Linked DNA regions of Homo sapiens. The protein of the gene in region 5 purifies or fractionates together with the protein of the main gene of each other region. This does not show direct contact. Each region holds a gene or a part of one and is shown on either strand. Other genes may lie near its edges.

Region 1 (3,500 bases), on a different chromosome or scaffold from region 5:
TGGGCTCATGATAAAAATCTCCACTTTTAGGCTGGGCACAGTGGCTCACGCCTGTAATCCCAACACTTTGGGAGGCCAAGGCGAGTGGATCACCTGAGGTCGGGAGTTCGAGACCAGCCTGGCCAACATGGCGAAACCCCGTCTCTACTAAAAATACAAAAATTAGCCAGGCGTGGTGGCAGGTGCTTGTAATCCCAGCTACTTGGGAGGGTGAGGCAGGAAAATCACTTGAACCTGGGAGGCAGAGGTTGCAGTGAGCCAAGATCATGCCATTGCACTCCAGCCTGGGCAACAAGAGCAGGACTCCATCTCAAAAAAAAAAAAAAAAAAACTCCACTTTTGTATATCTTTACATTTTCCACTGGATATAGCCTCGACTGTACTCACCAGGTTCTCCACACCCTAAGCCACATGCCAGATTTGTTTAGCAGATTCAGTGGAGCAGGTTCATTCATGGGGGCACCAAACCAAAAGTCCTTTTAAAAACAGTTACCTATGATTTAAAAGTGTGAAGTGATTGTAGTATGATGGGGAAACAGTGGGCCAACTATCATGAGAATTAGGAGATCTGGACAGCTACATGATCTCTTTGATCATATAGTTTTCTTACTTGCTCAGTGCAGCAGTAGTGCCAACCTGTCCTCAGACGGGGATGTAATAATTAAAAGAGGTAGCAGGGGAAAATTCTACAAACCATGGAGGGTTGTGCAAATGTAAGGAATTATTATTTTTTTTTATTTTTATTTATTTATTTTGAGACGGAGTCTCACTCTGTCACCAGGCTGAAGTGCAGTGGCACGATCTCGGCTTACTGCAACCTCTGCCTCCCAGGTTCAAGTGATTCTCCTGCCTCAGTCTCCCGAGTAGCTGGGACTACAGGCATGCGCCACCACACCCAGCTAATTTTTGTATTTTTAGTAGAGATGGGGTTTCACCATGTTGGCCAGGATAGTCTTGATCTCCTGACCTCATGATCCGCCTGCCTCAGCCTCCCAAAGTGCTGGGATTATAGGCATGAGCCACTGTGCCTGGCCAGGAATTGTTATTATCTTGGATGTCTTTCTATTACAATTACCACTACTACTGCAAAAATCCTAATTGCTAATAAAGTATTTTTAGGTTTTTAAAGGATTTCATAGAGTATGATTGCTGGACTGAGCACAGAGGTAATAATTGGTAGAGCAGCAGTTAAGAAGATTGCTCTACCACAGAATTAAAAGAATGTCTTCGCATAGTCCAAGAACTCCAGCTGAATTTTGAAACTCCAAAAGCTCAAGGAACACCAGCTTCACATTTGCCTGCGGGAGGGGTGTGTGCACACATTTTGATTTCCAGCCCTGGAAGTGGAGAATGGTTTATTAAGTGTTTCTCCAGGACATCCCTTCCAAAGGGTTGACAGCATGTTTGAGCAACTACCTTGGAAACACTTAAAACCTACTGAAATGTAGGGGAGTACAATTATTTCTGAACTATGGGCCAGAGTGAGAAAGTTTGCCCAAGTCTCATGATTATGTTCCAGTTCTCTGCTCTTCAAAACACTCTGCTAAGGTGACCACACTTGTTTTTCTCTCTCAGGCCATTCTGTCATTTAGTTGCATAACCTCAGTTCTATTCTTTCAATAATATACATAGTTCACAGTGCCTTCGGGGTAGTTTCCGTATCAAGGTTTTGGTTTCTTCTGATACAAAACACACACACACACACACACACACCCCTTCCAATCCTAGAGGAAAAGAGTATACTAAGTAGAGTTAATAAAGAAGCGTTAGATCCCAGACCATTCAGATTTAGCTGGTGGGACTGTGAGGAGTGTGATCATACAGAAATGAACCTCTCACAGGTGGTTAAGTATGCTGGAGTTGGAGGCACAGCCTGTGTTTGAATATCAGCTCTACCACTTCTTACATGCTGTGTGAGTTTAGACAGGTCACTTAATTAAGCTAAACTTCCTCATTTGTGAAATGGAAATAATAATAGTAACTGCTTTGTGGAACTGATGAGAAGATTACATCTATGAGAAGCACTTAGCACAGTTTCCAGGACAAAGTGAGTGTTCAAAAAATGTTAAGGAGTTACCGTTGTGGTTATAGGTTGGTGGGAAGCAATGTAAATTATTTTATTACAATGTCTCTCACCTGACTTCTCTTTGGCTAACTCAGTGGCTCTCAACTTGGGGTGATTTTCTGCCCCTATGGCAGAAAATGTGCCTTTTTCAGTTGTCACAGCTGGGGAATGTTACTGGCATCCGGTGGGTAAAGGCTAGGGATGCTGCTAGACATTCTACAATGCACAGGACAACCCCCACAACAAAGAATTATCTAGCCCAAAATGTCAACAATGCTGAGGTTGAGAAGCCCTAGAAACTAAAACAGTGTGGGGTTTGTAATTTATTGAAACCATGTAACAACTTTAGTTATTCAAAGACACATTTACCTGGGATATAAAAACTCTAAAATGTACTTCAATTGTGGAAAGAGGCATCAATGATTAACCATAATCATTTCTGATCATGACCAAGTCACCCCTGAGACTAGTAACTGCAGGTGCTCACAAAAAAATATGCAGCTGTCCTTCCTGCCTTCAGGGGATCATTCATGAAAGTAATTTCTCACCTGACCAAAATGATCGCTTAACATTTATTGCATCATTGCCCCTGTTTCTGTAGACTACTCTACCGAAGTTTTAATTTGTCACTAGTTTAAAGGGCCAAAAGATCTGTTTTCTTCAGATATTAGAGACACAAACCAAGCATCTCCCACTTTCTTGGAATTCCTTCTCAAAAATGACTAAAGTCTGAGACTGTTTTCTTATTTAATGTCTATTGAATTCTGTTTTACAGAATTTCAAAAGAGCAGGTTCTTAGCTTACTTTTCAATGGAACATTTTAGCCAGGTAGTATAAGTACAGGTGCGGGTAACCTCAGATAAATCAAGGTGTTATGCAGCTGTCTCTATATTAAAAATATTTGCTGACATCAGTGTAGACTTCATCTTGTAGTTCTTCAGTGTTTTCTTTCCTTATCTTTTGCTCATAAGATGGCTTTGTGTTTGGTTTGATATTATACTGAGAAAGCATATTAGAATCAAAGCACCAAGATTTCAAAAGTCCAGACTACTCTTCCCAAAGAGAAATGTGCAATCACAATAGCATGACATGGGTACAAATATAGAAGTATGTTATTAAAGTATTGAGAATTAGCTTTCCTAACCTCCCCACCTGCAATCTTTTACTCCTAATCTCCAAAAAATGAACAAATCATTGGCTCAAAATGGTCACAAATTGTATGTGGTGTTAAAAATCTATTATTTTTATTGTATATAAAATGTTGCCAGGTGTGGTGGCTCATGCCTGTAATCCCAGCACTTTGGGAGGCCAAGGCAGGTGGATCACTAGGTCAGGAGTTCAAGACCAGCCTGGCCAACATGGTGAAACCCCATCTCTACTAAAAATACAAAGATTAGCTGGGTGTGGTGGCGTGTGCCTGTAATCCCAGCTTCTC
Region 2 (3,500 bases), on a different chromosome or scaffold from region 5:
TGTGATCTGTGATAGTTTCTTTTGTCAACCTTTTTCTTCTTCTCCTTCCTTGCTGCCTGATTGTCCCCAGCCATCCCAGCTCAGTAGCTTTTCCTGGGATAACTGTGATGAAGGGAAGGACCCTGCGGTGATCAGAAGCCTGACTCTGGAGCCTGACCCCATCATCGTTCCTGGAAATGTGACCCTCAGTGTCATGGGCAGCACCAGTGTCCCCCTGAGTTCTCCTCTGAAGGTGAGCCTGGGGGTGGGTGGAGAAGGGGAGGTGCGAGGGTCTGGCCAGCAGGGGTACTGGGGCATGTATGCTTGGGGAACTGTGAAGAATTTCAGAATCCTGGATTCCCAGAGAATAGTACAGGACATGTAGATTCAGACACTCTTTCACAGGTTCATGGAATCTCAGGATCATAAGATTGAAAGGAATCTCTGATGTCAGCGCCAGCAACTTCCTGGTGAGGGCAGGAGTGACGGATACCTTGCACCTGGCAGAAGCGTCCTGGCCTTCTCTGGGCCTGGTGGCCAACTGCTCATTATTGTCTGACAGCTCTGGTTGGCCAATTTGGTTTTGTTGTTAATTATAAAATTGATATACCAATTAGCCAGTAATATATAGTCACTTTAGAAAACACAAGTGGTCAAAAAATAAATAAAATAGGCCAGGTGTGGTGGCTCATGCCTGTAATCCCAACACTTTGGGAGGCTGAGGTGGGTGGATCTTTTGAGGTCAGGAGTTTGAGACCAGCCTGGCCAACATAGTGAAACCCCATCTCTACTAAAAGTACAAAAATTAGCTGGGCGTGGTGGCATGTGCCTGTAATCCTAGCTACTCAGGAGGCTGAGGTAGGAGAATTGCTGGAACCCAAGAGGCAGAGGTTGCAGAAAGCCAGGATCGCACCACTGCACTCCAGCCTGGGTGACAGAGTGAAACTCTGTCCCAAAATAAATAAATAAATAAAATAAATCACTTGAAATCTCACTACCTAGTGATAAGGGATAAGCACTTTTAACATCTTATAGGATATTCTTTGCAACTTTCCCCCATACAATTACATACATAACACACATATTTATTTTTAATGGATATGTATGATAATAGGCAGTGCTCATTGTAAATGTCCTCCAGTAATCTAAATCCTAGAGATAGTCAGTGTTTGCTCTTTATATATCCCATCAGAATTTTTATGTGTTTGTAAATATATACACACTTATACTCATGGGATTATATGATATGTGCTATTATACTTGCTATTTTTTTTGCCTCATACTATATGTCCATATCTTTCCAAGGATTAGGTGGCTCTACTTATTCAATTTTTTTTTATCCAATCATTATTTTATTATTTTAATGTATTGTAATTTTAGAGACAGTGTGTCACTCTGTTGCTCAGGCTGGAGTGCAGTAGTGTGATCATGGCTTACTGCAGCCTTGACCTCCTGGGCTTAAGGGATCCTCCCACCTCAGCCTCCTGAGTAGCTGGGACCACAGGTTCATGTCACCATGCTTACCTAATTTTTTTATTTTTTATGGAGACGGAGCCTCCCTGTGTTGCCCAGGCTGGTCTCAAACTCCTGAGTTCAAGCAATCCTCCTGCCTCAGACTCTCAAAATGTTGGGATTATAGGCGTGAGCCACCTTGCTCAGCCCACCCAATCATTTTTAATGGCAGAAATATTCTGATGTGGATCTTTCATAATTTATATAACAAGTCTATTGTTGAACATTTAGTTTGTTTCCAGGGTAGTTTTTATTTGTTTGTTTGTTTATTTGTTTGTTTTGAGACAGGTTCTTACTCTGTTGCCTAGGCTGGAGTGCAGTAGCGCAATCTCAGCTCCCTGCAACCTCCACTTCCCGGGTTCAAGCGATTCTCCTGTCTCAGCCTCCCAAAGTGCTGGGATTACAGGCACCTGCCATTGCGCCCCACTAATTTTTGTATTTTTAGTAGAGATGGGGTTTCACCATGTTGGCCAGGCTGGTCTTGAACTCCTGACCTCAGGCAATGTGCCTGCCTCGGCCTCCCAAAGTGCTGGGATTACAGACACCTGCCACCATGCCCAGCTACTTTTTGTATTTTTAGTAGAGATGGGGTTTCACCATGTTATCCAGGCTGGTCTTGAACTCCTGACCTCAGGCAATCCACCTGCCTCAGCCTCCCAAAGTGCTGGGATTATAGGCTTGAGCCACTGTACCTGGCCAGAGGGTTTTTTTTGTTTGTTTGTTTTTTGTTTTGCTGTAGTAACCACCTTTGTAGAAATTATTCTTATAGTACATCTTTTTATAATTTTCTGATTCTCTAGATACACACTTTTTAGGTCTTTTGATACATTTTGCCAAAGTGCCTCCCAATGTTTGAATAAACCTGCATCATTCCTAGTGAGCGTAGATGTCTATTCATAAGTTTATTTGCCTTTTGTATTTACTTTGGGAATAACCTGTTTGTTTCCATCCATTGACTATTTTAGGGGTGTATGTTTTTATATTTTCTTAGAAAACAATGAAGACTTTTCATATATCCATTGCAACACCATTTAATATGGTCCTTTCCTCTCTAGCTAAAATTGCTACCTTTATATGATGCTCCTCTATGCCCTTCAGTCTGTTCCTGATCCAGATCTATTCTAGTACCAGTTTTGTGTTAATTATTTAGAAGATTCCTGATTTGGATTCTGTGTTTCTATCATTATCCTTAGACCTGTCTTAATCACAGCTCCTACGTTATGGGCTTTCCTTGAGCAATACCTGAGTTAGAAAATCATGTGGAAAGTGCTTTGCACAGGGCCTGGCACCCAGGACATGCTCAGTACATTTTATATCTTGTGAACATTTCGATTAGTATCTGTCTTATCCTGCAGTCTCTTGACCCAGACACAAGTCCTGGATATGTGGCAGCTTTCAGCTCCCCTGCACCTCCTACCAAGCCTTTTCCTAGCAGAGTCATTGTGTTTCCATTACTGTTCCTCAAGTGATAGGGGGTCAAGCCCTGTACCCTTGGATCTGGGCCAAGGGATGGAATCATTCCCTATGTATGGACACTGGACTGTTTCTCTGCCAGGGTCACACACATTTATTTGTGTGCTCCCTCTGCTGATCTGGAGTGTGGGCTCTCCTGGTAGGCCGTCCGCCATGCTCCCTCTGCTGCCATCACCATGCAGCCACTGGTGTTTCCAGGGAGGGGGCTATGCAGCTGACTTGGAAACAAGAAGCTGGCAAACCCGCTCTTCTGCCCTCAGCCTGCTTTTCCTGGCTTCTTCACAAACCATTAAGATGGGTTTTACTCCCTATTCTCCTTTTCCATTGCTTTATTACCTTTCATAAATTTGGGCCTACATAATCTCCTCTGTCTTTACTGTCACTTGTGCTTAGGAAAAATTAGCCTCAGATCCCCTCTGCTCCTTCTTTTTCCCCAATTTCTTTTTTTTTTTTTTTTTTTTTGAGATGGAGTTTCACTCTGTTGCCTAGACTGGAGTGTAGTCGCGCGATCATGGCTCATTGCAACCTCTGCCTCC
Region 3 (3,500 bases), on a different chromosome or scaffold from region 5:
TTTATTTAAATATTTTATATATTTATTTATAAATATTATTATTTCCTTCTAGGCTTGTGAGTTCCTTGAGGGATAAGATGCTGTGTTGTTCATTTTATGTCTCCTTTGCCCTGTATTTTACTTTATTTTATTTTATATCGTTTTATTTCATTTTATTTTTAGAGACAGAGTCTCACTCTGTCACCCAGGCTGGAGTGCAATGGCACCATTATAGCTCACTGTAACCTCGAACAAGGTAACCTGTAACCCGGGCTCAAGTGATTCTCCCACCTCAGCCTCCCAAGTAGCTAGAACTACAGGCACATACCACCACGCCTGACTAATTTTTTTTCTTTTTTTGTAGAGACAGGGGTCTTACTCTGTTGCTCAGGCTGGTCTCAAACTCCTGGCCTCAAGTGATCCTCCCACCTCAGCCTCTCAAAGGGTTGTGATTACAAGTGTGAGTCACTGCACCTGGCCTCCTTCACCCTGTAATTGTCACAGACTAGATAAATGCATGAATAAATGTGTGAAGATGAATGAATGAATGGATTGATTTTGGTAGTATGTGAAATGCAGTTGGTTATACTTAAGTGAATAGAGAGGGAGAAGTATGATGGGGAAGGGATCTAAACATTAATTCATTGGTATGAAAATGAAACTCTTATCCCAAAGCTGATAGCTGAAATGCTGTCACCTAACACCTCGATTGTAGCTAGTACAGAGCGCCAGCTAGCCGGCAGACTTTATGTGAATCAGGAAAAAGTGTCCCTTCAGGGAAAACGAGTTAGTAAAAGACACACCTTCCTTTTATGTTATAGCCTGACCGAGTTATGTCTTGTGCACCTGCTCAACCATCCTTGAGGGCACTGAGCCGGTGGGGAGCAGAACTTGGTTCTTTCCCAGGCCCACTGATGATTTCTGTGTGGTTCATCTCACCCCCAGGCCTCTGGGCCCTGGTGAACAATGCTGGTGTGGGCCTGCCCAGTGGTCCCAACGAATGGCTGACCAAGGATGACTTTGTGAAGGTGATTAATGTGAACCTGGTGGGACTGATCGAAGTGACCCTTCACATGCTGCCCATGGTCAAGAGAGCCCGGGGCAGGGTTGTCAACATGTCCAGCTCTGGTGGTCGTGTGGCTGTCATTGGTGGTGGCTACTGCGTCTCCAAGTTTGGCGTTGAGGCCTTCTCTGACAGCATAAGGTAACTGGGCCCTGGTACTGAACAATTCTGGGTGAAAATCCCAGAGATTAGAGAGGGTTGGGAGTGACAGCATGTGGGCAGGGGAATTCCGCAGACAGGAAGCTAACACAATAGCAGAAGGAAGGTTAGACCTCAAGGTGCTTTCTCCAAGGACCAAGAGCAGGGATGAGGAGAAGAGGTAGGGTGGAAATACAAGGCATCAGGTGGGCCTTCCCTTGAGCGGCACCAGGGTGAGTGAAACCCTGTTTGGGCCTGTGAGAGGAGGGAGAGTCCCCCAAACAGACAGACAGGCCTGGAGGCACAGGTCCCCTCTGGGAGGTCCTTAGAGGAGCGTGCAGGCCTTGTGTATATCCACACCATTCACCGTGTGGGTGTTGAGTGAGGGGTTGCTAATGGGAGGGACCTGGTGGGAGGCAAGGCTTTGGCCTAGATTCTCTATTGACTTCTTCCCGCTGGTTGTGCCTAATGCAAATTGCCCAGAGACTGTTGGGCCAGTTTTGGAAAGGGCTGAGTCCCTAAGGAAGGGCTTATTTGCACAAAGGCAATGCCAGGGCCAAGTACAGGGGTGAGAGAAGCATCTCTAGGTTCCTGAAAGACCAGCCCATCCAGAGGTGACTCTCCGTGATGATTGTCATCTTGGGGCCCAGACTGACTGCAACTCTTCTTTCCCAGGCGTGAGCTCTACTACTTTGGGGTGAAAGTCTGCATCATTGAGCCAGGGAACTATCGGACAGCCATTCTCGGCAAGGAGAACCTGGAGTCACGCATGCGAAAGCTTTGGGAGAGGCTGCCTCAGGAGACCCGGGACAGCTACGGAGAGGATTATTTCCGCATCTGTAAGTTCCTGGGGCAGGAGAGGGGTCTCTGAGGGGGGCGAGTGGGTCTTGGGGTCATTAGCTGGCTTTCCGTTTACAGATGGTGAGACAAAATGCAGAGGAGTTCAGGACCCAAGGTCACATAGTGGCACAGCTGGGGTTTGAGAATAGAGAGCAAGTGGCAGAATCATCACTTCTGGAGCAGCCCGGGGAGTTAAGGGCAATTCAGCCCACTCCTGGCACCTGCCCCCACAGCATCATGATGCAGGGGAATCAGGTGAAAATGCACTGAGATAAATACAGCAAAGAGATCAAGGGCATGGCTGCTGGAGCCGGACTGCCTGGGTTCAAATCCTGGCTCTACTACTTACCAGCTAGGAGACTTTGGACCTATTACCTAGTTTTCCCATGCCTCAGTTTTCTTATTTACAAAATGGAGCTAAAGATAGTGCCTCCCTCATGGGGTTGTTATGAGGGTTAGTATGTGTGAAGTACTTTGCACATTCTGAGTGCTTGTTAATAAAGAAGAAAATGAGCACATGGGGATTTAAAAGGGAGGGTCTCTAGGCAACTCTCTTTCTTTCCCTGAGCTGAGGGTCTCCTGTGAATCATAGGTGTTTTTGGAGGGTAGAGGTGGGACACGGCAGCTGTTTACCCTGCTGCCCCAAAACTTTCTGCCACGAAAGTTGTCTGCTGGATGTCGTACGTCAACAGAGCACAAAGCCAAGTCAGCCATTTTTTTCACTTAATACATACACACTTTATTGCATTTTTGTTTTTTGTTTTTGTTTTGAATCAGTAATACAAAGCATGCAAGGCTGCCATGTCCCAAGCCTGTGTGGGGCTGGAGAGCTGGAGCGGACACAGCAGTATGCCTGCCCTTCACTGCCTGTAGCTTATGGCCCAGTAGGGGAGACAAACATAAATCAAAACACATGTGTTTATGGTAGATGTGGATAAGTGCTACAGAGGAGAAACAGGGTTGTGAAAGAAGAATGGAGCAGGAAGTTGCGGTCCCAATTCAGACTATGGTGAAGGGGAGAGCTTCTGAGTTGACTTTGAGGAGGAATAAGAGTTAGGTGTTGCTGGGAAGGGGAAAGAGGGGATGCGTAGGGACTTTTTTTCTGCAGGAAGGCTCTGAGGCAGAAAACTCCATTTGAGGAACTTTAAAGAAACCAGCAGGTGGGAAGCAATGGGAGGTAGCTGGGGTATACGGAATAAATTAGAGCATCAAAGCACACTGAGGATTAAGGGGTGAGGGAGAGGAAGCTATCAAGGGTGAGTGTTAGCTTTACAGCTTGAAGAACATGGTGAATGGAGGTGTCTTCATTCATTGATTTAGGGAAGTCTCAGGGAAAAATGTTTGGAGTACTCCTTAGATAAATTCATCTTTTAGTGCTAGACATGTTAGGATTCTGTGAGAAGAAAATGTCTAAGGATTTACACTAGTTGGGACTTACTCAGTGACAGAAGATCCAATGCAAATTATTTAAGCAGAAAAG
Region 4 (3,500 bases), on a different chromosome or scaffold from region 5:
CCACCACACCTGGCTAATTTTTGTATTTTTTTTTTTCAGTAGAGACGGGGCTGCACCATATTGGCCAGGCTGGTCTTGAACTCCTGACCTTAAGTGATTCTCCTGCCTTGGCCTCTCAAAGTGCTGGGATTACAGGCGTGAGCTACAGCGCCTGGTCTCTCTTTTTTCTCCTTCCTCCTCCCTTCTCCTCCCCCTCAGAGCATCAGTTTCCTGAGCACCATCCTGCCTGGTTCTGAGACTCCAAACAGACCGAGGAGTAGTGCCCCAGCAGGGGCTGTCATGTAGTAGATGCTTAAGCCTCTTGCCCTCCCCTCATCCAGTGGAGGGAGGGGATATTCTGTGTACCCCATCAGAGAAGCCAGATAGGGAACTCCAGGATGGAAAAAAGGGTGGTGCTGTGAGTCAGCCTGGAGTGAGGCCTCTTGGCCCCAGGGTGCCCCCACCTGGAATTACACAGATCAGGCTCCAGTCACAGACACCACCCTGGATCAGGACCTCCTGGGGCCACACCTGGGAGTGGCTTGCTGTTCTGAGCTTGGAGCTGCACAGCCCTTGAGCCTGGAGGAGGGCCCAGCTCCTGTTGGAGCTTCAGTTTCCCCATCATCTTATGGGCCTTTGGACTAGGAAATTTTAATGAGAGAAAGTAGATAAACATGCTTTATAGAGAACATGATGATATATAGACATATAATTGTAGCTTGCTTTTATATCATCTTTTTAAAATGGAGGTGAAATTCATGTAACATATAATTAACCATTTACAAGTGAACAATCAGTGGTATTTAGTGTATTCACCATGTTGGGCAACCACCAGCATTTTCCAGTTTCAAAATTTTTAGTCACCTCATAAAAAAACTCTGTACCCATTGAGTAATCACTTCCCATTTCCCTCCTCCTCCCATCCGCTGGTAACCTCGAATCTGCTTTCTGTCTCTATGTATTTGCCTATTCTGGGTACATCATAGAAAGAGAACCACATAAAATGTGATCTTTTTGTGTCTGTTTTCTTTTACTCAGCATAATGTTTTTGAAGTTCATTCACGTTGTAGTAGGAATCAGTTTCATTCTTTTTTTTTTTTTTTTTTTTTTGAGACAGGGTCTTACCCTGTCACCCAGAGGCTGGAGTGCAGTGGTGTAGCCATAACTCATTACAGCCTTGAAATCCTGGGCTCGAGTGATTCTCCTCCTGCCTCAGCCTCCCGAGTAGCTGGAACTGCAGGCACGCACCACCATGCCCAGCTAATTTTTATTTTTATTTTTGTAGAGATGGGGTCTTGCTATGTTGTCCAGGTTGGTCATTAGGGCTGAATTCATTTCACTGTATGGATTTTTTTTTGTTTACCCATTCACCTTTTGGATGTTGTGAATCATGCTACTATGAACATATGTGTTCAAGTTTTGGGGTGGACATATGTTTTCATTTCTCTCTTGGGTAGATACCTAGGAGTAGAATTGCCAAGTCATATGGAATTCTGTACTTAACTTTTTAAGGAGCCACCTTGCTGTTTTCCACAGAGGGTGTGCATTAATTTTCTACTAACAGGAAACACAACTATTTATCTCACAAGTTCTTGATGCCAATAAATAATCATTTTAACCATAGTAATAAAAATAGCCAACAGTTGGTCAATTATTCATTTACCTACGCACGTATTTAATGAGCATCTACCATGTGCCAGGAACACAAGAGCTTGTTGAGTCTTATAGGGATGCCATGAGGCAAGATTGTTCTATTTTCTCCTTTGGCAGTGGTAACATGTCCAGGCTTACATATCTAGTTAGTGGCAGGGCTGGGATTTGAACTCAGACCTGGCTGGCCCAGAACCCAAGCTCTCAAACATAGTGATATGCAGCTTTCTGAGCATGAGTTTCTCCATGCTGGCACCATGTGGGGGTATTTCGTACACCGTCTCATCCATGGTAGGCATTACCATCTCTCCCTCTTTTTTTTTTTCTTTTTAAAAAACATTTTTGTAGAGACAGAGTCTTGCTGTGTTGCCCAGGCTGGTCTTGAACTTCTGGGCTCAAGTGATCCTCCTGCCTCTGCCTCCCAAAGTGCTAGGACTGCAGGTGTGAATCATTGCACCTGGCCTACCATCTCCTTTTTGCTGGAGGGGAAAACTGGTGAGGAGCGTGGACACAGACTTTCCTGGCATTGTGGTCAGAGTTGGAGTGGAAAAGGAACCTGAGGATGAGAGAACAATGGTTCAGCTGAGAAGGGGGTTTGGAGAAGGCTTCCTGGAGTAGGTGTCAGTGAAGCTGGGCCCCGAAGGATGCCTAGGAGCTTGCCAGAGAAGGAGTCCCAGATGGAAGGTCCTGCCAGTGCCTTGATGCAGATGTGTGAAAATTCCAGGGGAATTCAGGTGATTTAGGGTGGCTGGAGTGAAGGTGATATGTTGGGGGGAATAGGAAATGAGACTGACAGTTAAGCAGGAACTGGACAGCAAAGTGAATGAACTTGTACTTTATCCTGGGAGTGATAGGGAGCCACGGGAAGTATTTGAACAAGACAGCTATTGACCAGATCCTGGTGTCAGAAAGATCCCTGTGGAGCCTATCTTGGAGTCCAGAGTGCAGAGAGGAGAGGAGTGACTAGACTCCTGCTTTCCTCTTCAATGCTGCCTCCTCCAGGAAGCCTGCCCTGACTTCCAACAGCCCTTTTTCTGAGCCTTCCTTAGCACCTAGCACACTTTCTACCTTCTTGGTAATTGCATGGTGTGTCTCTGCTTCCCTTTCCTGCCCCACTCAGGAGCTCCTCCAGGGAGGGCATAGAGCTGAGCCATCTGTGGGTCCCCAGCATCACCCAGCTTGGGTTGGGCACAGAAAGGCAGCATAAGAGGTGTGATGAATGGGGGGATGAGTGGGCGGATGATTGTGTAGGCAATTGGCCAATTCCTAGGGATTGTGTCGGTGTAGGTGGCTGAGTCGCATTCAGGTAAAAGTGATATCACTCGAATTTCAGATACTTCCTTCCTGGGCCTCTGCCCATTCAGCCCCAAATCTGTTCAGTATATAGAAGGAGGATCCATCCATTCATCCATCCACTCATTCATTCATTCATCCATCCACCTTCCACCTATCCACTCATTCATCCATCCATCCACTCATCCATCCATCCACCATCCACCCATCCATCCATTCATCCATCCATCCATCCACCCACCCACCATCTATCCATCTGCTATTCATCCATCCACTTATTTATCCATCCATGTACTCATCTGTCCCTCTACTCATCCATCCACCCATTTATTCTTTCATTCATCCATCCTTGGATTGACTTATTTATTCATTTAATAAAAATTTATCTAGCACAACATATCAGTAATCAACACGAACCCTCCTGTTAAGGGGCTTGTAACTAAGTGGATACAATCCAGAGTGACTGCTGGGTCAGGGGTGGGGAGAAGCATTCAAGTTCTCATACAGGATGAGGGAAGAGTGTTTGGGGCAGAGAGAACAGCTGGTGGAAAGTCTCAGAGAAGAGAGAGCACGTGGTC
Region 5 (3,605 bases):
AAAATGAGAATAAAATTTAAGCAAAAATGACAATATCATGCTTATGCTAACATTTTAATTGTGGGATCAAGGAGGCCTGAGTTCAATCAGAGAATTCAGAGACTCTTTCTGCAGCATTCCTCATAAATTCATCGAACTATTGCCAATCACCTGCATAGACAATGCTTAAAACTGTGTATTCTAGAGTGTTTATCAATAGTAAGCCCAAATCCAACAAAAGTTACTGATCCTGTTTTCGTGTTTAGATAATGACACAGTGCAAATCTATTCAGTCATTCACATAAATGCTCATCTAAACATTGTGGGAAAGTAAATAACAAAAAATAATGTTCTGGGCTAAAAAATAAGTCTTTACACTTGGATAAGAAAAGATTTTGTGAGATATATGCTGTGGAGGTGATGATCAGTGCAAGAGTGGAAAGTTTAAGAGGTGAATGACCACTGGTGTATTTGGCTGATGGTATGTCGAACCTTAGTATAGCCCGCCCTTAATTAAACCTTCCACTTTAAGATTAAACTTAATGTGGTTTTAAGACTTTGACATGTGTATCAGTTAGTGTTCATTGTTTCTGAAACATAACAGAGAAAAACTCTGAATAATACGACCAAGGAAAAGAAGAATTTATTTGAAGGATATGAGATAGCTCACTGAATCAAACAAAAACTGTGTACTACATTGACATGTGACATTCATCCCTGAAAGGCCTGAGCCAAATTTTTTTTAAAAAAAGACCAAAAGGATATATTAATATGTGACATGTTTATTTTTAAATTTTAGCCTTTATTAAAAAATTAACGTAATAAAAAAGAAACCTATGTATACGTGTGCACGCGTTTTTTTTTTCTTTTCTTTTTTTTTTTTTTCTGGAGACAGAGTCTGGCTCTGTCACCCAGGCTGGAGTGCAGTGTTGCGATCTCGGCTCACTGCAAGCTCCGCCTCCTGGGATCAAGCAATTCTCCTGCCTCAGCCTCCCGAGTAGCTGGGACTACAGGTACACGCCGCCACGCCGGGCTAATTTTTTGTATTTTTAGTAGAAATGGGGTTTCACCGTGTTGTCAATGCTGGTCTCGAACTCCTGAGCTCAGGCAATCCGCCCGCCTCGGCCTCCCAAAGTGCTGGGATTACAGGCGTGAGCTACCGCACCCGGCCTGCATATATTTTTTAAACATTTATTTTAGCGTTACCAAATTGTCTTGAAGCATTCATTTAAAAACACAAAAACTCACTGCAGCTGTCTGAACACTTTTCTACTTCACCAAAGAGTGCCGAACAAGTTAAAATGAATCTGTTTTTAAACACTTCTCCTAAACCATGAGCATTAACTTGATTTCCTCTGTCATAGGGATATGGGAGACAATATAACATCCATCAGAGAGTTCCTCCTACTGGGATTTCCCGTTGGCCCAAGGATTCAGATGCTCCTCTTTGGGCTCTTCTCCCTGTTCTACGTCTTCACCCTGCTGGGGAACGGGACCATACTGGGGCTCATCTCACTGGACTCCAGACTGCACGCCCCCATGTACTTCTTCCTCTCACACCTGGCGGTCGTCGACATCGCCTACGCCTGCAACACGGTGCCCCGGATGCTGGTGAACCTCCTGCATCCAGCCAAGCCCATCTCCTTTGCGGGCCGCATGATGCAGACCTTTCTGTTTTCCACTTTTGCTGTCACAGAATGTCTCCTCCTGGTGGTGATGTCCTATGATCTGTACGTGGCCATCTGCCACCCCCTCCGATATTTGGCCATCATGACCTGGAGAGTCTGCATCACCCTCGCGGTGACTTCCTGGACCACTGGAGTCCTTTTATCCTTGATTCATCTTGTGTTACTTCTACCTTTACCCTTCTGTAGGCCCCAGAAAATTTATCACTTTTTTTGTGAAATCTTGGCTGTTCTCAAACTTGCCTGTGCAGATACCCACATCAATGAGAACATGGTCTTGGCCGGAGCAATTTCTGGGCTGGTGGGACCCTTGTCCACAATTGTAGTTTCATATATGTGCATCCTCTGTGCTATCCTTCAGATCCAATCAAGGGAAGTTCAGAGGAAAGCCTTCCGCACCTGCTTCTCCCACCTCTGTGTGATTGGACTCGTTTATGGCACAGCCATTATCATGTATGTTGGACCCAGATATGGGAACCCCAAGGAGCAGAAGAAATATCTCCTGCTGTTTCACAGCCTCTTTAATCCCATGCTCAATCCCCTTATCTGTAGTCTTAGGAACTCAGAAGTGAAGAATACTTTGAAGAGAGTGCTGGGAGTAGAAAGGGCTTTATGAAAAGGATTATGGCATTGTGACTGACAGTGACCTAGGAAGTTACATCATTGAGCGGTTCTTAACCCATCTCTGCACTGGTGGGACCTCTGCCCTCAATGGACATGAGAATTATCTGAGACATTTATTTAAAATGGAGCTATCTCCTGCCCTACCTTTAAATGACTGATTTCAGCAGATGTGGGATGAAATTCTAGAAATTGATCTCTTCAAGTTGTGCTGCAGCCACTCCACACCAGGACAATACCCCTTACAATATCCTCATTAGCTTTTGATCCAGTCCCATACCTCCCATAATGTTTTCCTCAAAACACTGGTCCCTTCAGAGGACTTTAAAAATAAGTTCTATAGTCAAATAAGTTTGAGACTTACTTCACATCAGATGCCTCTGTCTAGGGATCACAATTCATATTAGCATAGTGAATGCTGTAAATATTTCTCTAGGAAAGAATAATTCTATACCAGCTTTAAGCCAGTGTTTTCTAAACTTATGTGAGCACATAAAATTTCCTTTGTAATACTTAGTAACAGTTTCCTGGAACAGGAGATCTTGATATTAATTGACTCATTGTGAATACTTCCTACAGCCCCCTTCTAGGGCAGAATGATTTCTTTTTTCCTTGCAAAGTGAGCCTCTAAAGAGATGTAGTTCTGAGCATTATGCCTCGATCAGTCTGTAAAAATCCGGGTTCTGTTTGGATACAGACCGTGAGGGACCCTGTCTCTACTGTTCAATGGTAGATCATCTAAAGAAAATAAATGCAATCCTGTCCTTCATCATGGATCGGCATTCCTGCTATAGAAGCTTCAGGAGATGACCTCATTCAACCTCACAATCTTCTAAATTTGAGATTTTTAAGAAATATGATTCAGTATACATCTTCCTGTGTTTGCCGCTGAATGAAATCAATCTAATTTTTCTAATTCAGGGTTTTCAAGATAAACCCAGATTTCTCAAGAAAGAAAAATCTAGAAAGATTTCAAAATCCACCACCTACACACTTAAAAGTTGTAGCAGCTTCTTATGCCATGGGAAACATGTCATTTTGAGATGATGTTTTTTCTAGGTTTAAGTTTGGTCTTAAACATTTATATTTAATTTCTCATTGTCTTAGTTCAAAGAATTTACTTTTATATTTTAAAATAACTTTTTACACAATAACTCAGTGTCATATCATGTTAGATATAAAACTATGTCCTAAAACTATTTTATCCTTTTTTTTTTTTTTTTTTTTTGAGACAGTCTTGCTCTATAGCCCAGGCTGGAGTGCAGTGGTGCAATCTCGGCTCACCGCAACCTCTGCCTCCTGGGTTGAAACAATTCTCCT
Region 6 (3,500 bases), on a different chromosome or scaffold from region 5:
AGAGGCGTGTAAGAGAGAGTGGTAGGCAGAGTAGGCAAGGACGTCAGAGGGCTGATGGGGCCATATCAGGTGGGGCCTTGAGGGCTGGCCATGGGGACTTTGCTTCTACCCTGAGTGAGATGGAGCTATGGATGTGAACTGATAGGGGTGTTCACGGGCTCCTTGGGAGGAGGGAAGGAGGGGCTGAGAGACCAGGGAGTAGGCTGCTGGGCTGGTCCAGGCAAGAGGTAACAGTGGACAGGACCAGGCGGAGTGAGAAGAGGTCAGATTTGGAATTATTGTGATCAGCAGACAGCTCTTACCTGGGGTGTGAGGGAAAGAGGAGCCCCAGAGGACTCCCCTGTTTTTGCAACTGGAAAGCAATGGTCAGCCATGGCAGGGTTTTGTCCTGGCATCAAGACAAGCGAGCCCTTGGCTGGGCACAATGGCTCATGCCTGTAATTCCAGCACTTTGGGAGGTGGAGGAGGGTGGATCACCTGAGGTCAGGAGTTTGAGACCAGCCTGGCCAACATGGCAAAACCCTGTCTGTACTAAAAATACAAAAATTAGTCAGGCCTGGTGGTGTGCACCTGTAATCCCAGCTACTGGGGAGGCTGAGGCAGGAGAATTGCTTGAACCCGGGAGGCAGAGGTTGCAGTGAGCCGAGATTGCGCCACTGCACTCAGCCTGGGTGACAAAGCGACACTCTGTCTCAAAAAAAAAAAAAAAAAGACAAGAGAGCCCAGGCTGATCCTGCCCTGTGTTCCCTCCAGCTTTCCTGCTCTGGGACCCTACCAAGGTGCCCCCACGACTGCAGGCTGTGACTGATGACCACATCCGGATGCACAAGGTGCTGCGGGAATCAGGCCTGAAGTACGTGGCTGTGATGCCGCCACACATAGGTAAGCAGGGCAGGGACCTGGTGGCACCAATGCCATCTGCCTGTTCCCTCCTGCCCTCTGGGGAGATCTGCAAGGCCTTCCCTGACCACCCTAAAATTGCAAACCTTCCTATGATATTGTGACATATATATTTGGCCTTTGTCCCTGTTTCCTGGCATACAACTCCTAAAATCCTTGGAATCTCCAAAATGGTAAATGTCTTTTTCTATGCTAATGAGTTCACTGAGAGCTGGCAGCCCCTAGGCAGCTTCAGGTCTGGTCACCAGAAAGACTAAGGCTGGATTACAGGGTTGGGACTTTCACCTCTGGGGAGTGGTGAGGGATTGAAGGTTGAGGGGATTACCACTGGCTAATGGTTTAATCCATTATGTCTATGGATTCTGGGGCTTCAGCCTCCTGAGTAGCTGGGATTACAGGCCTGCATCACCATGCCCCGCCATGGCTTACATTTCTAGTATGGGAGATAGAGATTAGATAGATAGATAGATAGATAGATAGATAGATAGATAGATAGATAGATACATAGGCCAGGCATGGTGGTTCACACCTGTAATCTCATCACTTTGGGAAGCCAAGACGGGAGGATTTCTTCAGCCCAGGAGTTTGAGACCAGCCTGGGCAACATAGACTTATCTCTACAAAAAAAAAAAAAAATTAGCTGGGCGTCGTGGCACACACCTGTGGTCCCAGCTACTGGGAGGCGGGAGGATGGCTTGAGCCCAGGAGATCAAGGCTGCAATAAACTGTTGCCCAGGCTGCTGTACTCCAGCCTGGGTAATAGAGTGAGACCCTGTCTAAAAAAAAAAAGAAAAAGACAAGAAAAGATAGATATTAATGGCCGGGTGCGGTGGCTCACGCCTGTAATCCCAGCACTTTGAGAGGCCGAGGCGGGCAGATCACAAGGTCAGGAGATCGAGACCATCCTGGCTAACATGGTGAAACCCCATTCTCCTGCCCAGCCTCCCGAGTAGCTGGGACTACAGGCGCCCGCCACCACACCTGGCTAATTTTTTGTATTTTTTAATACAGACGGGGTTTCACAGTGTTAGCCAGGATGGTCTCAATCTCCTGACCTTGTGATCCGCCCGCCTCGGCCTCCCAAAGTGCTGGGATTACAGGCGTGAGCCACTGCGCCTGGCTTTTTTTTTTTTTTTTTTTTTTTTTTTGAGACAGAGTCTTGCTCTGCCGCCAGGCTGGAGTACAGTGGTGCGATCTTGGCTCACTGCAACCTTTTGCCTCCTGGGTTCAAGTGATTCTCCTGCCTCAGCCCCCCGAATAGCTGGGACTACAGGCGCGTGCCACCACGCCCAGCTAATTTTTGTATTTTTAGTAGAGACGGGGTTTCACCATATTGGCCAAGATGGTCTCGATCTCTTGACCTCGTGATCTGCCCACCTTGGCCTCCCAAAGTGCTGGGATTACAGGCGTGAGCCACCACGCCCAGCCAAGTGTGTGAAAACTTCCACACCTCCCGATTTGAAAGCATTAAAGGTTTATGAATACACATAAGCCCTTTGTTTAGGTTCAATGCTTAGCATTTTATCCTGTTGTCTCTCCCTCTCTCCTCCTCTCTCTCTCTCCATGAATATATAGTTAGATTTTGCTGAATATATTGTGAAAACATATATGCATATGTATATTTGGCTTAATCATTTGAGAGGAATTGCAACATTGTCGCACTTAACTCCTAAATACCTAGACAGCCATCTCCTAAAAGAAAGATATTTGCACACAAAACATGCTCACACCTAAGGAAAGTGACATTTACTCTGTCATATCATTTAGTATCCACTCCGTAGTAAAATTTCCCCAACTGTCAGGCCAGCGTGGTGGCTCACATCTGTAATCCCAGCACTTTGGGAGGCTGAGGCGGGTGGATCTCTTGAGGTCAGGAGTTCAAAACCAGCCTGGCCAACGTGGTGAGACCCCGTCTCTACTAAAAATACAAAAATTAGCCAGGTGTGGTGGCGGACACCTGTAATCCCAGATACTCGGGAGGCTGAGGCACAAGAATTGCTTGAACCTGGGAGGTGGAGGTTGCAGTGAGCCAAGATTGCACCACTGTACTCCAGCCTGGGTGACAGAGCAAGACTCTATCCAAAAAAGAAAAAAAAAAATTCAACCCACTCTGCCCTTTTTCTTTAAGTTTCTCATAACATTAACCAGGCCAGGTGACTTTAAAGGCCCACATTCTGGATTTTTCTAGCTGTTTTGTCACAGATTCAGATTAAACATGTTGGGCAGGAATGCCACATGGGTGAAGGTGTGTGTTCCTTTTTTTTTTTTGAGACAGGGTCTCCCTCTGTAGCCCAGGCTGGAGCGCAATGGCACAATCTTGGCTCACTGCAACCTCCGCCTTCTGGGCTCAAGTGATTCTCCTGCCCAAGTAGCTGGGACTACAGGCATAAGCCACCACACTCAGCGAATTTTTGCATTTTTTGTAGAGATGTGGTTTTGCCATGTTGGCTGGTCTCAAACTCCTGAGCTCAAGTGATCCTCCCACCTTGGCCTCCCGAAGTGCTGAGATTACAGGCGTGAGCCACTGTGCCCAGCCAGGGCAGGAGCTTCCTGTCTGCTTTGTCCCAAGCAAACACACAGCCAAGGGTGTGTGTTCCATA
Region 7 (4,281 bases), on a different chromosome or scaffold from region 5:
ATGAGAAAAAAAGGTGTTTTGCTTAAAAAATAAGTGAGTTGCTCACCATACTTCTGGATCTCATCTAGAATTGGACTCACAGTTTGTGAACAGCCCAGGTATAGCCAATGTCTTAGCTTTGGAACGCTTGCCACTTTCCAGCTACAGCTGAACCTTATATCCTGGTTTGGTTCCTGATGACTTTCAAATTCTCCTGACCCAAACGCAAGCTCAGAAGCACAAGCACATTGTTGGTGGCAGTACAGACTGAAACACCCTCTTTGGATGGCAGTTCCTCTCACAGGACTTTATTCTCCAGGTATGCACAGGCACACACAGGTGCCCAAAGGATAAACACACAGATCTATTGTAGCATATTTGTATTACTGAGAGATTAGAAACATCCTAAAATGTTAACCAAATCGCTTGGATGAAAAGTTTTGCTCTGCTTATTAGGTTTGGCGTACAATATGGAGGTGACATCTGTTACTTCCAGTGTATTATAGATACTTTAGCTCCAAAAATGATACCTGTACCTAGATGGGCACCAAAAGGGAATGGTTAACAAATATTGCATATACAGGGGTATGGGGCAGCTCCGGGGCTGGGGATGGCGGCGGCCAGGTTTGCAGCGGCTCCAGGATGAGCGGGTGGATCCCGGGAAGCGTGGTGAAATGGGCTGGCTCCCGAGCCAGCCGGGAGGACGCTTACTACAGCTGCTCAGAAGCACCACTGGAAGCTCAGATGTAGGTGCCCCAGCCAGAAGCAGAGAGGGGTTCAGAGAAGCTACAGAGAAGCCCCTCCTGATGCCCCAGGGAGCAAGCCAACTCCTTCCAGGCTCCAGGAACACCACAAAGCAATATGAAACCTGTTCATGAGAGGAACCAGGAATGCCTTCCACCAAAGAAACGAGACCTCCCCATGACCAGCTGCTCCACTAACCACACATCCTCCAGTGATGCCTCTGAATGGTCCCGAGGGGTTGTGGTGGCCGGGCAGAGCCAGGCAGGAGCCAGAGTCAGCCTGGGGGGTGATGGAGCTGAGGCCATCACCGGTCTGACAGTGGACCAGTATGGCATGCTGTATAAGGTGGCTGTGCCGCCTGCCACCTTCTCACCAACTGGCCTCCCATCTGTGGTGAATATGAGCCCCTTGCCCCCGGAAAAAAAAAATAATATTGCATATGCAGTTGATTAAATGGCATACTCCATGGCTATTAGGAGTGATGAAAATGGGCTGGGTGCGGTGGCTCATGCCTGTAATCCCAGCACTTTGGTAGGCCAAGGTGGGCAGATCACCTGAGGTCGGGAGTTTGAGACCAGCCTAATCAACATGGAGCTGTGTTTACTGAGTGGGGCTTTCGCAGGCTGGAGCTAAGAATTTCCAGTATGCGTAACAGCCACAGCCCAAATATCTGCCAGTGAGTTGTGTAATTCCCCAGAGCAGGCCTGGGCAGTGTCTGGGTGGGGCCTGGGAGCCACAGGAGATGCCCAAAGCCAGGCAGAGCCCGGGGGCGAGGGGACGGCAGGCAGGTGTGGCGCTGCCCTGGGCGGGCTTGCACCCCCACACCCAAGTGAGCGGCCTGCTCACTCCTCAGCTGCAGGAGCCAGACGTGTGGAGTCCCAGCAGAGGCCAACCTGTGTCTCTTCATCTCCCTGGGAAAGGTGCCCCCGAGGTGAAAGAGATGGCCTGGTGGAAATCCTGGGTAAGTGGGAGCTGGCAGGAGATTTGGGTTCCTGCATGGTGTTGGGTGCTGGTCACCAGGGAGTCCTGAGAAATGTAAAGTCGCCCTTGGCTGGGAGTGGCTCAGTCTACATTTGGCTGCCTCCTGGGCCAAGCATGGAGGGTGGGAAGGGGCCGAGAAGAAACAGTCCCAGGCCTAGAGTGCCCACGGCAGGGATGGGACCTGGGCCGGGAGACAGGCTGATGAAGAAATCTAGAAATGCAAGGGGGAAGCTGAGGTTTGAGAAGAGTCCAGGGGAGGGACCCTTGCAGGGGTGGGGCCACTCAAAGGAGGGGGTATCATGGTTGAGCCTTGTGTGTAAATGTGTATGGGGTGCACACACGTGTGCATTTGGGGAGAATCAGGCATACTGCTCCTGGCAGAGGGAACTGTGTGCAGAGGGTCAGAGGGCAGGGAGCTTGGCTTCGAGGGAAGCTGCTCAGCACAGCTCAAGGGTCCTGGTACCGGAGGAGATGGACCTGGGGAAGCAGGCAGGGCCAGGTCCTGAAAGGCCTTGCCTGGCAGGCTGAGGAGTTAGGCTTTACCTTAAGAGAAGTGGGAAGGCACTGAAGGGCTTTGAGCATGAGAGTAACCTGAACCTGCTGTTGGGGACCCATCAATGCCTTCACCTCAGGGATCAATGATGTTCATTTGTCAAGACTGGAGAGGGAAGAGGGGAAGCAGGAGGACCTGGCCTGCTAGAGCCTGGAGGAACCCGGGGCTCAGGGCAGCCCATCCCCAGCAGAACTGATGGGTTCTCGGGAGCTTTCCATCTATGGTTGAGCCTGAGGCCATCGCTGTGCTAAGGAGTTGAATATCCAGAAGGGGACAGAGGTGACATCTCCCGGCTGCCGGCTCTGCACACCCTTTTCCTTTCCTCCCAGGCAGCCTCAGGATGTCAGGGCTGCACTTTCTGTTTTGCAGATGATGAAATGAAGGCTCAGAGACACTGAGTGACTTGCTAGGGTCCAATGGCCAGCAGGCTCCAGTCAGAGAGCAGTTGGGTCTCTCTGCCCAGCCCCAGGTTCTCTGTGAGCTTTTGTGGGATACCCAGGCTTGTCCAGCTTCAGGGAGTCTCTGGATCATAGATGTCGCAACCCAAGCAAGTGTCCTCAGGGTCAGACATGCTAGGTTCTGGACAGGTGGGACAAAGAGGAAGCCAGGCTGAGGTGGGGCAGCTGTCCTGGCCCCCAGGGAAGCAGCCTTCTTCCAGGACAAGGGGCCATGGAGGCCTGCAGCTTCAACCAGACTGCTGGGAACCTGCCTTTGAGGAGGTGGACATGGCAGGGAGAGCCCAGTGCTGGGTGGTTTCCAAAGTCAGTTGCTGGCCAAGGCAGTCTGGCACTGGGCCTTGCACCCAGTGCAGCAGGACAAAGGGCTGTCCATGTAGGGACCTGCCAAATTGACAGGATCACTGTGACACTCACTGAGTCCCTACTCTGTGGCCGGACCCTTCTCTAAGCACCTCACATTCAATATCTCCCTTGAACCTCACAAGGAGTCTATGAAGTAGACACCAGTATCCTTATCCACAGATGAGGAAACTGAGGCACAAGTAGGCTAGGCAGGTGCCCGAACTCACTAGTAAGTGTGAGAGTCTAGGTGAGAATCTGAACAGCCTGACTCCAGGGCCAAAACCATACCCTGGTCGTCCATACCCCATGTGAGAGCTGGCTAGGGGTAGCAAGTTCACAGGTAGACCCCACCTGCAACAGCTGAGCTGCTAGCGAAGACCCAGTGTCCTCTAGGCACAAAGCTGGGCCAGGAACGCGATGGGAGGAGATGAGGGAGCCACTGGAGAGAGATCTGTCTGCAGGCAGGGTCCATCTGCACCTCTCTTTTTGGTGTTGCCTTTTCCTCTGTGTCTCTCATAGAGACAAACCCATCTCCCAGGCCTCTGGGCAGCCACGTAGCAGGGGAAGGCCAAGGCGTGGCAGCTCCCCTGTGCCTGTCACAGAACAAGTTATATTAATAGATGTAGTCACAGGCTGGTCTGAGTCACCTTTTCAGTGAAAATGTGCCTGTCTGGACTAGCACGGCCCTGGGCAAGACCCTGCAGGAGCCTGAGGCTGACCCTTCCTTCTCAGCAGGAGGTCTGGAGCTCCAGGACTCCACACTGATAGCCAGGGCTCCGATTCCCAGAACACTTATTTTCTAAAACCTTAGAGTGGGAAGTGAGACAGAGGCTTCTCAATGCAGCAAAATCAGAACCAGCCAGGGAGCTGCTTACAAATGCTGCACCTGAGACCTACCGCACCCCTGCGGGACTGCATGCTCCTCAGGGATGCGGTTACACAGCCTGGCCACTCGCTGGTGCACCACAGCCCCCGAGTGCTGGGGCAGAGGGAAGCCGGCAGGCACTGAGAGCTGAGATGCCTCCCACATTCCCAGATGACCTGCGTTCCTGTGGGTGAAGCTTCCTTCAGTGGAACGTTCCAGGAACACTCATTGTCTGGGAAAGGTGGAGTCATCAGTAGGGCAGGGGAGGTAGATAGAGCTCAGCTTCTGAGTCAGGCTGGGGAGTCCCAACAGCATCACTTACTAGCTGTGTAAGGGAGTCCAGCTCCCTTTCTGTAAAG

The links.
Region 1: the proteins of OR2A4 (region 5) and ACP3 purify together in Homo sapiens (affinity purification with mass spectrometry; one large-scale study listed by BioGRID and IntAct). This does not show direct contact.
Region 2: the proteins of OR2A4 (region 5) and GM2A purify together in Homo sapiens (affinity purification with mass spectrometry; one large-scale study listed by BioGRID and IntAct). This does not show direct contact.
Region 3: the proteins of OR2A4 (region 5) and SDR9C7 purify together in Homo sapiens (affinity purification with mass spectrometry; one large-scale study listed by BioGRID and IntAct). This does not show direct contact.
Region 4: the proteins of OR2A4 (region 5) and CYP4F22 purify together in Homo sapiens (affinity purification with mass spectrometry; one large-scale study listed by BioGRID and IntAct). This does not show direct contact.
Region 6: the proteins of OR2A4 (region 5) and BLVRB purify together in Homo sapiens (affinity purification with mass spectrometry; one large-scale study listed by BioGRID and IntAct). This does not show direct contact.
Region 7: the proteins of OR2A4 (region 5) and ANXA8 purify together in Homo sapiens (affinity purification with mass spectrometry; one large-scale study listed by BioGRID and IntAct). This does not show direct contact.

The regions. Positions count from the first base shown.
Region 1 is NC_000003.12:132,323,907-132,327,406, forward strand, and holds part of ACP3 (prostatic acid phosphatase isoform PAP precursor), read left to right. Parts: intron 1-3,500. UniProt on the Homo sapiens protein: A non-specific tyrosine phosphatase that dephosphorylates a diverse number of substrates under acidic conditions (pH 4-6) including alkyl, aryl, and acyl orthophosphate monoesters and phosphorylated proteins.
Region 2 is NC_000005.10:151,259,685-151,263,184, forward strand, and holds part of GM2A (ganglioside GM2 activator isoform 1 precursor), read left to right. Parts: intron 1-70; coding exon 71-232; intron 233-3,500.
Region 3 is NC_000012.12:56,927,909-56,931,408, reverse strand, and holds part of SDR9C7 (short-chain dehydrogenase/reductase family 9C member 7), read left to right. Parts: intron 1-924; coding exon 925-1,183; intron 1,184-1,855; coding exon 1,856-2,019; intron 2,020-3,500. UniProt on the Homo sapiens protein: Plays a crucial role in the formation of the epidermal permeability barrier.
Region 4 is NC_000019.10:15,532,525-15,536,024, forward strand, and holds part of CYP4F22 (ultra-long-chain fatty acid omega-hydroxylase), read left to right. Parts: intron 1-3,500. UniProt on the Homo sapiens protein: A cytochrome P450 monooxygenase involved in epidermal ceramide biosynthesis. Hydroxylates the terminal carbon (omega-hydroxylation) of ultra-long-chain fatty acyls (C28-C36) prior to ceramide synthesis.
Region 5 is NC_000006.12:131,699,144-131,702,748, reverse strand, and holds OR2A4 (olfactory receptor 2A4), read left to right. Parts: upstream 1-1,347; coding exon 1,348-2,280; 3' UTR 2,281-3,105; downstream 3,106-3,605. UniProt on the Homo sapiens protein: Odorant receptor.
Region 6 is NC_000019.10:40,448,746-40,452,245, reverse strand, and holds part of BLVRB (flavin reductase (NADPH)), read left to right. Parts: intron 1-753; coding exon 754-882; intron 883-3,500. UniProt on the Homo sapiens protein: Enzyme that can both act as a NAD(P)H-dependent reductase and a S-nitroso-CoA-dependent nitrosyltransferase. Promotes fetal heme degradation during development.
Region 7 is NC_000010.11:47,481,316-47,485,596, reverse strand, and holds the start of ANXA8 (annexin A8), read left to right. Parts: upstream 1-1,481; 5' UTR 1,482-1,576; coding exon of another isoform or gene 1,577-1,663; coding exon 1,664-1,684; intron 1,685-4,281. UniProt on the Homo sapiens protein: This protein is an anticoagulant protein that acts as an indirect inhibitor of the thromboplastin-specific complex, which is involved in the blood coagulation cascade.